2 separate regions of the Homo sapiens genome follow, and region 2 is linked to region 1. Evidence: fine-mapped expression QTL. A gene starts in region 1. The other region holds a variant in brackets. All regions are shown on one strand. Distances are from middle to middle. Region 1 holds the start of TCAIM (T cell activation inhibitor, mitochondrial). Region 2 overlaps ZNF445 (zinc finger protein 445).

What was found. PIP is the estimated chance that this variant, and not a neighbour inherited with it, causes the effect.
Region 2: its variant is fine-mapped to the expression of TCAIM in whole blood (TOPMed, PIP 0.94).

Annotation. Positions count from the first base shown.
Region 1 is chr3:44,335,732-44,341,107 of GRCh38, reverse strand. It overlaps TCAIM (T cell activation inhibitor, mitochondrial), which reads right to left and starts at 2,342. Exons shown (of 11, transcript NM_173826.4): 1 at 2,274-2,342. It overlaps LOC105377055 (a long non-coding RNA gene), which reads left to right and starts at 2,990. Exons shown (of 4, transcript XR_940782.4): 1 at 2,990-3,403. It also overlaps a transcript of TOPAZ1 not described here. RefSeq lists a silencer at 2,292-2,681 and enhancers at 2,822-2,991, 2,676-3,329.
Region 2 is chr3:44,443,135-44,448,510 of GRCh38, reverse strand. ZNF445 (zinc finger protein 445) reads left to right here. Exons shown (of 8, transcript NM_181489.6): 8 at 1-5,376. The coding sequence ends at 1,936. Among named protein-coding and RNA genes, the nearest start is that of LINC01988, 18 kb to the right of the region's middle. The variant C/TC (reference allele first, on the strand shown) is at 2,785.

The sequences.
Region 1 (5,376 bases):
AAAAATATATTCAGTTAATAATTCTGCTATCCATTCAACAAAATTATTGCTCTAAGATGATCACTTCCTATACAAATCATTGGAAAAAATTAAAAATATATTTTCTCGTTCTGTTTAAGAATAAGAATGAAAAACCGAGTACTATGAGTCTTTTGAGTATTTCCTGTAAGCTCTTCAAGAATGGGCTCTGACGACTAAGTGACAGATGAGGATCCAGTTTTGGAAAAGAAGAAAGGGACAGGGTAGGAAGGAGAGAAAGAAATAACTCTTAGGGCAGTGGTTTTCAAAGCAGCAACAGCATCCGTGAGAAATGCAAATTATCAGGTCCCATCCGAGTCCTGCAGAATCAGAATCTGGGTGGGATGGAGGAATCTGTTTTAACACACTGTCAGGGATTCTGATGCACACTCAGGTTTGAGAACCACTGTATTAGGGAATCCTGATTCTATCACCAAAGAGGATTCTGGGGCATCTGTTAATGTTTAAGCTTTAATTCTTTAAAAATAATTATTTAATACAAACTTGGATCTTTAGCTACCCAATTTATGCTAAAAATCAAAGGAGGATTTCAAGTTTTTGCTTGAATTAGTTCTTTGTTTCCTGTATGGTTTATGTACTTTTCAGATTAAAAAAACCAAAATTCTAAGTAGAGACAATGTCCAGCAGGTTGGCAGGCATGGCTGCCTGCCGCTTCACAACGCCCAGATCTTGGGTTAGTCTTCAACCTTGTAAGAACAGAACCCAATTTTATCACTTCAAGACAGAAATACGTGGGCCTTGGGGAAGCTAAATTAGAAGGCCTGATAACTGGAATGTCAATCTGTAAATTTACTTTGAGATTATAACTGCTAAGACAACTAGAAGATTCAGATCTAATGTTCTTCCTCTTTCAGGACTAGCTACACAGAAAATCAAATTACTATCAGCTGACTGAAGACACATTGCTTCAGAGTAGAGTTGGGTGCTCTCATTCAGACACTAGCTCCAAAAGTCTGGGACATCCACATCAACCGCAGGCTTCTCGTCTTCAGATAAATTCTTACATAGGTGGTTCCTGTCCATACTGCACTTAGCCCACTATACTTCCACTTGGAAAATGCTATAAAATAACTGAAGAGGTTGCACTGTCTTATCACACTTGGGAGGCATACCGAGTCTTTAACTCACCCATTCATCACCACTTATGGGCCAGGTCCTGCGTAAAGCATTGGGACTAGAAAATTATTAAGACAATTCTAATACTCAAAAGACTTTTAGAGGGAGGGGGGAGTGTAAAAACAGACACAAGCAGATAAGTATAAAACAACGCAGTAAATGCAATAATACAAACATGCACAGAATATGAGAAACTCCCAGACGCAACACTTGGAATGGGGCGGGGAGAGCTCAGGAAGGTCTTCTCTAAGGAAATGGTGCCTTTCCTGGAAGAGGGCAGAGGACCGGGAAGGATAAAATTTATTTACAAACCATTGTAAATGACTACTTTAATCTACTTAACAGTGATATTAGTTTCTGTTTCATAAAGTGAAAATTTCTAATTTTACCTAAAATCTGTTCTAAGTGAGGCATTAAATCTGTGCAGTTTCAAACCAAATTTGGTGGAAAGATACCTAAATCAGTGAAAAATCCAAATTATGGAAGAGTACACGAAAAACGGTTTTGTTTTGCTTACTTTCAACTAACACCGAGTGTGTGCCAAATAGAGCTCTCAGGATTGAGCTTTGACCATTTGGCACAACTTTTATTTGAAAGTAATTTATTTTAACAAAATTAATATCATGCCACTCTCATTTGAACTGTGACTTCCCTTAGTGACTATCTTGTACGGTTTCTGAAAGCAGTTTGTTATATCAAGGAGGGACAAAAGCGGTAATTTTCATGGCTTTTCAGTTGAATATGAACTTCTTAGAGTAGGGGAAAAAGGCAAAGAAAAAGAGCAAAAGCAGGAAATGCTATTAGATACATTAGCCTAGATTCTGTAGCTTCCTTTTCTAAATCTCGCTATATGAGATTTAGTACGTAACAATTTCCCGTAAATCAAAGACCTCGGAAAAATATAAGTCGGAAACAATAAAACCTAAATCGTCTTTGCGTTCTCATTTCACAGCGAGTTAAAATGTAGATGCGATGCGGATACTGCGTCCCCTGGCACTGCCTCAATTCAAAAGTTAGCACTTTGCGCTAAGGTGGCTCTGAGCACTCCCCTCCGACCCCGCTTCCCCCCTAGAGGAGCATGAATGCACCACCGGAGCCCCTCCCCTCTTGCTCCTTACAGTTCTGGCAAGGGTCCGACGCGAGGGCTTTGTCCGACTAGTTCCACCTCCCACCCAGTACACCAGAAGGGAGGACAGTCGCTCCGCCCGCAGGGCTGTTCGGACGCGCATGCGCACTGGGGCGTCAGCTGGCCAACCAGCGCGCGACGCACGGCCAGGCGCTCCCACCTGCCCTCGCCCCGGTGGGCGACAGGCTTTGACGGGCTCCTAGCCGCAGTGCCCTCTGAGCCCCCAACCCTGAATTCTCAGCTGGGCCCTCCCGGCTCCACCTGCCCCCAACACCCTCCCCGCTCCGGCGGCGGCAGGGCGCTCGAGGCAAGCCCGGGCAGGGGGACGAGCTGCAGGTGACGCCCTGGTTGGCTGGAGCGTGCCAGGCCTTCCCCCTACGGCGCCTGCGCACAGCCAGGGCGTGGATTCAACCTTCCGCGGTGCCCTGCCTCTAGCTGACGTCAGCACCCTGGTAACTGCTGCACCTTCGCCGCGCGCTTTGAGCCCCCGCCCCTCCGCCTTCTTACCGGCCGCCCTGAGGGGTCTCGGCGCGCTCGGCTGAGAGCTTTAGGAGGCGCGAGCGAGCACTCCGACTAGGCCGGAGGGACTCGGAAAATGATGGTCCGGCAGGTGGTGGGTCCTGACCCAAGGGCCTGCAAGGAACGGAGAAGGGCAACCGAGCACGCGCTGGATCTTGGGGAAGAAGGGGAAAGGGACTGCTGGAGGAGGCGCGCATGCGCCGTGCGGTCCTTCGCCCCGGGCGCCCTGGCAGGGGGCGAGGCTCTGCGGAACTCCCGGAGCTGGCGCCAGGGAACAAGTCTCAGTGGAGAGCCTCGAATTTTAAAAGTCTCATTTAAGTATTTCTTTTGGTTTTCCTTGTATAAATATAGCTAACTTTTAAACATTTCTTTTCCGGCTTGTGTTGTTTGCTTTGGACCCTTCAGCACCTATTTTTAAACGTTAAGCATTCCCCAGTCAGCATGAAAGTTTTACTGTTAGTTTTATTTTGTTCCTATAATTTTGATTCCCCCCAGAAACTGCCACAGATGAAATCAAGCCAATAGAATTGAAAGCAAAGATCACCTGGTGGCCATGAAGCCGACCATCCTTAGGCAGAAACTCCTTACCTGAGGAATTTAGAGGTAACTAGACTTCCCTGTTACCTAAAGCCAGCATCTGGTACCAGACTTCTTCCCTCCAAATTTAAAAGTAACTAGAATTTCTATGCATCTCCGTAATGCACGCATGTCAAAACTCATTGTGCACCCCTTGCCATCTGCTCCATGCCCCAATCAACCCCTGTCCCCTACCATCCAGATACTTTATTACCCTCACATACTTGCACAGGAGTTACATATGCCACTAGTACAAAGTCCTCAGAAAATCCCCCAAGTGTTATGCCTCTCCACAAGGTGGCAAACGGAGATTTGGGAACAATTTGAGTTCATGTCCCTTTTCCATTGTCTGAACTTTGGCAAATTCAATCCAAGTTGGGTTCATTTAGCCAGGATCCCTCTAAGTTCATTCAAGAATTTCGGGCTTTATTGCCTTTGATTTAACCTGGCAAGACACATTTGTGGTATTAACTATTTGCTGTTCCCACGAAGAAAAAATCACGGTCTTTAGCTCGAGTTTGGGCAGACGAAACTCATGTTGGCAATCCTAATAATAGAGCCAGGGCAGAAGCTGTCCCCAACACAGAACCCAATTGGCAATACCACGCTGCCAATGCCAGCCCAAACAGAGACAGGGGAAGAGAAGATTATAACATGTTTGTTGGAAGGAATGAAATAAAACCTGTTAATTTTTCTAAATTATGAGAGATCACTCAGGACCAAGGACCCTTCCCTTTTCCAAGCTAGACTAATGGAGGCCATGCATAAATATACAGATTTAGATCCTGAAAGCCCTGAGGGCCAATCCCTTCTGGCCATACATTTTATAAGTCAGGCTTCCCCAGACATCAGACAAAAACTCCAAAAATTAGAGCAAGGCCCACAAACTCCCTTTTGTACTTTATTAAAAGCAGCCTTTAAGGACACTGAAGTTGAGAATGTCCCAAACCTCCAGGTTGCAAGCCATCCCTGGGACCCTGTCCTCACTGCAAATTGGAAGAATGAGTGTCCCTCCCTCATGAAGGGGGGGCCACCTCTTCCTTCTAGGCTATGACAGCCACAGTCTCACCAACCTACCTGACAAGGGGATCCTGCAGAACGAGGGTGAGGGTGAGGGCGAGAGCAAGGGCAAACACCTCTAATTCTATTCCTGGATTATGATCAAGCCTCTGAAATGTCAGTCATCCATCCTCTAGATGGGGCCTTGAAGCCATCCACGGCCCTGTCTTTTCCATCTCTGTGGATGATCCCAGGGCAAATCTGATTGTGGCTGAACAACAGATAATGTTACTCATAGATACACGGGACAGTTATTCAGCTTTATAAACATTTACTATGGCCCAATGTGCCAGTCCTCCATTTTCCTCATGGATATTGATGGAAAACCCCAATGAGGCTGTTTCACACAGCCATTCCCTTGTAAAATGAAAGGCTATTCCTTTACTCCTTTTTAGCCCTGTTCTATTAGGTTGTGATTTACAAAATTACAAGCTAATTTACAGCTAAGGCCCCACCTTCTAGCTGTATTAACACTTCACCAAAAGAGCCCCTGCAGCTTCTCCCAGATAGCAATCTACTTCAGTATGTGGATGACTTACTAATCTGTAGTCCTAACCAGGCTGTTCCAGACCAAAATACAGTATTAGTATTCAACAAACTTGCTAATTGTGGGTACAAAGTATCTCCTTCTAAAGCACAAATATCCACACAAAGGGTTCAATTTTGGGGTCTTATTTTAATTCCCAGTGAAAAAGCCTTTGTAGTGCTTGTACAGATCTTAAACGTGACAATTGTGGTAACTAAACAACAGCTTCAGTCATTTTTGGGTAAGGCTGGGTTTTGCAGAATATGGATTCCTTCCTTTGAGTTAATAGCAAAACCTTTATATGAAGCCCTCAAGGGAACTCAGGAACAGTCTCTATACTGGACTAATGAGATGAAGCATGCTCTAAACACTTTAAAATAGGCTTTAATCTCAGCCCTGACCTCAGCCCTACCAG
Region 2 (5,376 bases), 110 kb before region 1:
CTCTGAAGTATCAGGAAGTAATAGTCTTGACTTAAAACATGTTACATATTTGAGAGTTTCTGGAAGAAAGGAATCCCTTAAACATGGCTGTGGCAAACACTTCAGAATGAGTTCACACCACTATGACTACAAGAAATATGGGAAGGGGCTCAGACACATGATTGGGGGCTTCAGCCTACATCAGAGAATTCATAGTGGACTGAAAGGGAACAAAAAGGACGTGTGTGGAAAAGACTTCAGCCTTAGCTCTCATCACCAACGTGGGCAGAGTCTTCACACAGTGGGAGTGTCATTTAAGTGCAGTGACTGTGGAAGGACTTTCAGTCATAGCTCCCATCTTGCGTATCATCAGAGACTTCACACTCAAGAGAAAGCATTTAAATGTAGGGTGTGTGGGAAAGCCTTCCGGTGGAGTTCCAACTGTGCGCGGCATGAGAAAATTCACACTGGAGTGAAGCCTTATAAATGCGATTTATGTGAGAAAGCTTTCCGACGCCTGTCAGCCTACCGTCTGCACCGAGAAACCCATGCTAAGAAGAAATTTCTTGAATTGAATCAGTATAGGGCAGCTCTCACCTACAGCTCAGGGTTTGATCATCATTTGGGAGACCAAAGTGGGGAGAAACTCTTTGACTGCAGCCAGTGCAGGAAATCCTTCCACTGTAAGTCATATGTTCTTGAACATCAAAGGATTCACACCCAGGAGAAGCCCTATAAATGTACCAAATGTAGGAAAACCTTTAGATGGAGATCAAACTTTACTCGTCATATGAGGTTGCATGAGGAGGAAAAATTCTACAAACAAGATGAATGTCGTGAAGGCTTCAGGCAATCTCCTGACTGCAGTCAGCCCCAGGGTGCTCCCGCTGTGGAGAAAACATTTCTGTGTCAGCAGTGTGGGAAAACTTTTACTAGAAAGAAAACTCTCGTTGACCACCAGAGAATTCACACAGGTGAGAAACCTTACCAGTGTAGCGATTGTGGGAAGGACTTTGCCTATAGGTCAGCCTTTATTGTTCATAAGAAGAAGCATGCCATGAAAAGAAAACCTGAGGGCGGGCCATCTTTTAGTCAGGACACAGTGTTCCAGGTTCCTCAGAGCAGTCACTCCAAAGAGGAGCCCTACAAATGCAGCCAGTGTGGCAAGGCCTTCCGCAATCACTCATTCCTCCTCATCCATCAGAGAGTTCACACTGGAGAGAAGCCATATAAGTGCAGGGAGTGTGGGAAAGCCTTCAGATGGAGTTCCAATCTCTACCGACATCAGAGGATTCACTCTCTTCAAAAACAGTATGATTGCCATGAAAGTGAAAAGACTCCAAATGTGGAGCCAAAAATCCTCACTGGTGAGAAACGTTTTTGGTGTCAAGAATGTGGGAAAACCTTTACACGTAAAAGAACCCTTTTAGATCATAAGGGAATACACAGTGGAGAGAAGCGCTATAAATGTAATCTATGTGGGAAATCTTATGATAGAAACTATCGCCTTGTTAACCATCAGAGGATCCACTCTACAGAGAGACCTTTCAAATGTCAGTGGTGTGGGAAAGAGTTCATTGGGAGACATACCCTTTCCAGTCACCAGAGGAAACACACCAGAGCAGCACAGGCTGAACGTAGCCCGCCTGCACGGTCTTCCTCTCAGGACACAAAGTTGAGATTACAGAAGCTAAAACCAAGTGAAGAGATGCCCCTCGAAGACTGCAAAGAAGCTTGCAGCCAGAGCTCCAGGCTCACTGGACTCCAGGACATAAGCATTGGGAAAAAGTGCCACAAATGCAGCATATGTGGGAAAACTTTTAACAAGAGTTCACAACTCATTAGCCACAAGAGATTTCATACTCGAGAGAGGCCCTTCAAATGCAGCAAGTGTGGAAAGACCTTCAGGTGGTCTTCGAACCTGGCTCGGCATATGAAAAACCATATTAGAGATTAGCCTGGGACCTGACAGTGACAGTGGGGGTGGGTTCTCAGTCCCCTGCTAGAGAACCCTTAATTATAGGCATTGTGGAGTAACTTTGATAAAGGGCCCAGCCCTTTCTGTTTTGGAAGCTAGTGACAGAATCCCAAGGATTTGAAAGCTCGGGGAGTCCCCAGCCTGCCTGCTAGGATGTGACGCTGGGGAAGTGCAGCACCATGTCCTTTGGAGCCCTTCTGGAGACTCCGGCCCCTAGGAGTGGCCTCTGCACCATAGCCTGCGGCTCCCCTATTCAGGTCTCCTTCCACAACTCTGAAGAGAGAGACCACTGCCCTTTGTGGTTGGACAGAATATCTGTGGCATCATGGGCTATGGCTGCTGGAAAGGGGCCAGTGGGATCCTAGATTTGTCTTCAAGTTTGGCCTGTGGCCATGCCTATTCTGTTGACTTTAAAAGCAGCAGCATCAAGAACTCCTAGCCTTCCCAAATGCCCCCTGGGGAGTTCTGGCTGGGGCTTCAGCCTTCCTGGCTGGCTTTTGGATATCTGCTAGGGGGTTAGAGTGGTCTCAGCGGCAGGTGGAGGAGAGCAGGATGCTGGGCTCAAGCGCTTGGCGTGTGGATCTCTACCAGTACCCTGTTGCCATCCCCATCCCACAGGCCTGCATAGGCAGCAGCGGTCCATCTGTTTAACAGAAATGTGCTGAGCACTCCCATACACCAGGCGCTGGTGTGTTTGCCAGAGACCCAGCAGGGACCAGAACAGATGAAAATCCTGCCATCTTGGATCTTTACAGATGACAAACAAATGGGATACGCAGTATTCTGGATGGTGATGTGTGTAGTGGACAAAGTGAATCAGAGAAGAG[C/TC]AGAGGGAGTGCTGGATTGGGAGATCAGTCGTGATTTTAGATAGTCTGGTCAGGGAGGGCCTCAACTGAGAAGGTGAAATGTGAGCAAAGACGTGAAGGAAGCCAGGGAGGTAGCAGGTAGCTCTCTAGGGAGAGTTGCAGGCAGAGGAGATTGGGTCTTGACTGGTGTCCTCAGGAAGGAAGCCCCTGGGATGGAGTGCAGGGAGCCAGCTGGAAGGGAAGGAGAGGGGCCAGGGAGGCCACAGGCCCGGCCATATGAGCATCATGGGTCATTACGGGGGCTTGAGCTGGCTCAGAGGGAGGCAGGGAGCTTTTGGACAATTTTGAGTTGAGGAGTGATGTGGTTTGAATCTGAATTATATTTTATAAGGGTTAACCACAGATCCAAGGACTCAGTAAAAGGGTGAAAGGCTTCTCATGCAGTTAGCCTTGCTGCCAGTTCCCATAAATCAGACTCCTCCCCACTCCGTTTCTGAATTTTCTATAGGATCCTCGGCCTCAGCAGATATAAACGCTTACCATTGTTGTGTTCATGTCTCTAGCCCCTGCACACTGCAGGCCCCTCTCAGCTTCACATACCCCTCTCCATGTATGAGATCTGGTGCTAGCAATCAGATTCAACCCGAAGGAACAAGTGCATGTGCCTGCTGCTCTCAGGAGAAAAGGCAGCCTGTTCTGGGAGGAGCTCCCTCACTGGCCCACCCACTTGTGTTGAAGCAAAAAGCAAGAATCAATTACTTAAAGGCAAAGGAGTGATATTGCTAAAGCATGTGAGTAATCATTGCTTCTGATTATTGAAGAGGTCAGATTATGAATGAAAGGATAAAATGTTTTAATAGTAGAGCAGTGTCCTGACTATAGGGGCCCGTTCATGGAGCTGGTCATTTCTTGAAATGAGAAGAAACCAACCTGGAAGATGTCTTTTTCAGTAGAGTATGGAATAATCTTACCTGCTCTGGATTGCCATGAGCAGGTGAAAATGAAGGCTCTGATATTGTGTGGTGGTGTCACAGGATGGTGGGGGCGGGGCAGAAGTCTCCTGTTGGTGTTCTGATGCCTGTTCAGCTTTGTCCTCAGGAAGGTTTGGTCATCTTGGTTCTGCCATCCTCTTGCCTTCCTACGGCAGCAGCTGTTCATGGCACTGAAGATGTCCCTTCACTGTCCCAAAACTGGCACTAGAAGTGGCTGGGCAGGGGGGCCAGAGTCATAGGAAGGGTCTTGGAGTCATCAGATCTGGGTTCCAGGCATGGTGTGCCTTTTCTTGGCAGGATTGATCTTGAGCAAGTCAATGAACCTCTGCATCAATTTCCTTATGTGTGAAGTTAGAGTGCTTGGCTGTGCTACCTGATTCCTGAGATTGGTGAAAGAGGGCTTGGTTTACCAAGGCTCTCCATCAGGTGGTTGACCTCTAGGACCAGGGCCCTCTCAGAGGTGCAGCTTCCATGTCAGTTGGTGTTGTAACCATGGAAAAGTCCCTTTCCAATCAAACTTTTAGCACCCCTTTCCCCCCATCTCTGCTCCCTTTGCCACAGGATACCTTGTAAAGTTCCTGCCCCAGTATAGGGATATTTTTACTGTCTTTTTTATTTTTTGAGACAGGGTTGCCCAGGGTGGAGTGCAGTGGCAGGATCACAGCTTACTGCAGCCTTGACCTCCCAGGCTCAGGTCCCATCTGAGCCTCCCGAGTAGCTGGGGCTACAGGTGTGTGCCACCCTGCCAGCTAATTTTTTATATTTTTTTGTAGAGACAAAACTTTTATTTTTTTTTCCCATGTTGCTCATGCTGGTCTCAAACTCCTGGGCTCAAGCAATCCACCCACCTCTGCCTCCCAAAGTGCTGGGATTACAGGCGTGAGCCACTGTGCCTGACCTGTCATTTTTATAGAATGAAATGTGCTTATTTCTAAACATTCTAATCAAATTTTAAAATGTGCAAAGAATGAAGTGAAAAACTGAATTTTTTTTTTTTTTTGATACGGAGTCTCACTCTGTTACCCAGGCTAGAGTGCAGTGGCGCGATCTCCGCTCACTGCAAGCTCTGCCTCCTGGGCTCACACCATTCTCCTGCCTCAGCCTCCTCAGTAGCTGGGACTACAAGTGCCTGCCACCACGCCTGGGTTATTTTTTATATTTTTAGTAGAGACGGGGTTTCACTGTGTTAGCCAGGATGGTCTCGATCTCCAGGATGGTCTCGATCTCCAGGATGGTCTCGATCTCCTGACGTCGTGATCCACCCGCCTCGGCCTCCCAAAATGCTGGGATTACAGGTGTGAGCCACTGTGCCCGGCCAAAAGAACAGAAATTATTTTATCCTGAAGTAAGCTGTTTATATTTGGGATTATACTGAACCTATTTGTCCAATAACCTGAGTTTTCAAATAATTTTAGTTCTATAAGTACTATAATTATATAAATATTAATGAATTCAGATTAGCTGAAAGGAAAAAAAGTAGAAGCCTGACTACTTGGTGCTAACTACTAAAGATTTTGGCAGAATCAATGTTGGATTTGGCTTTCCTGTCCCTTCCCCATGCCAGCCCCCCAGAGTGTTCTGCCTTGTGCTGCCTCCCTTCACCTGGAGTGCCACACCCCTC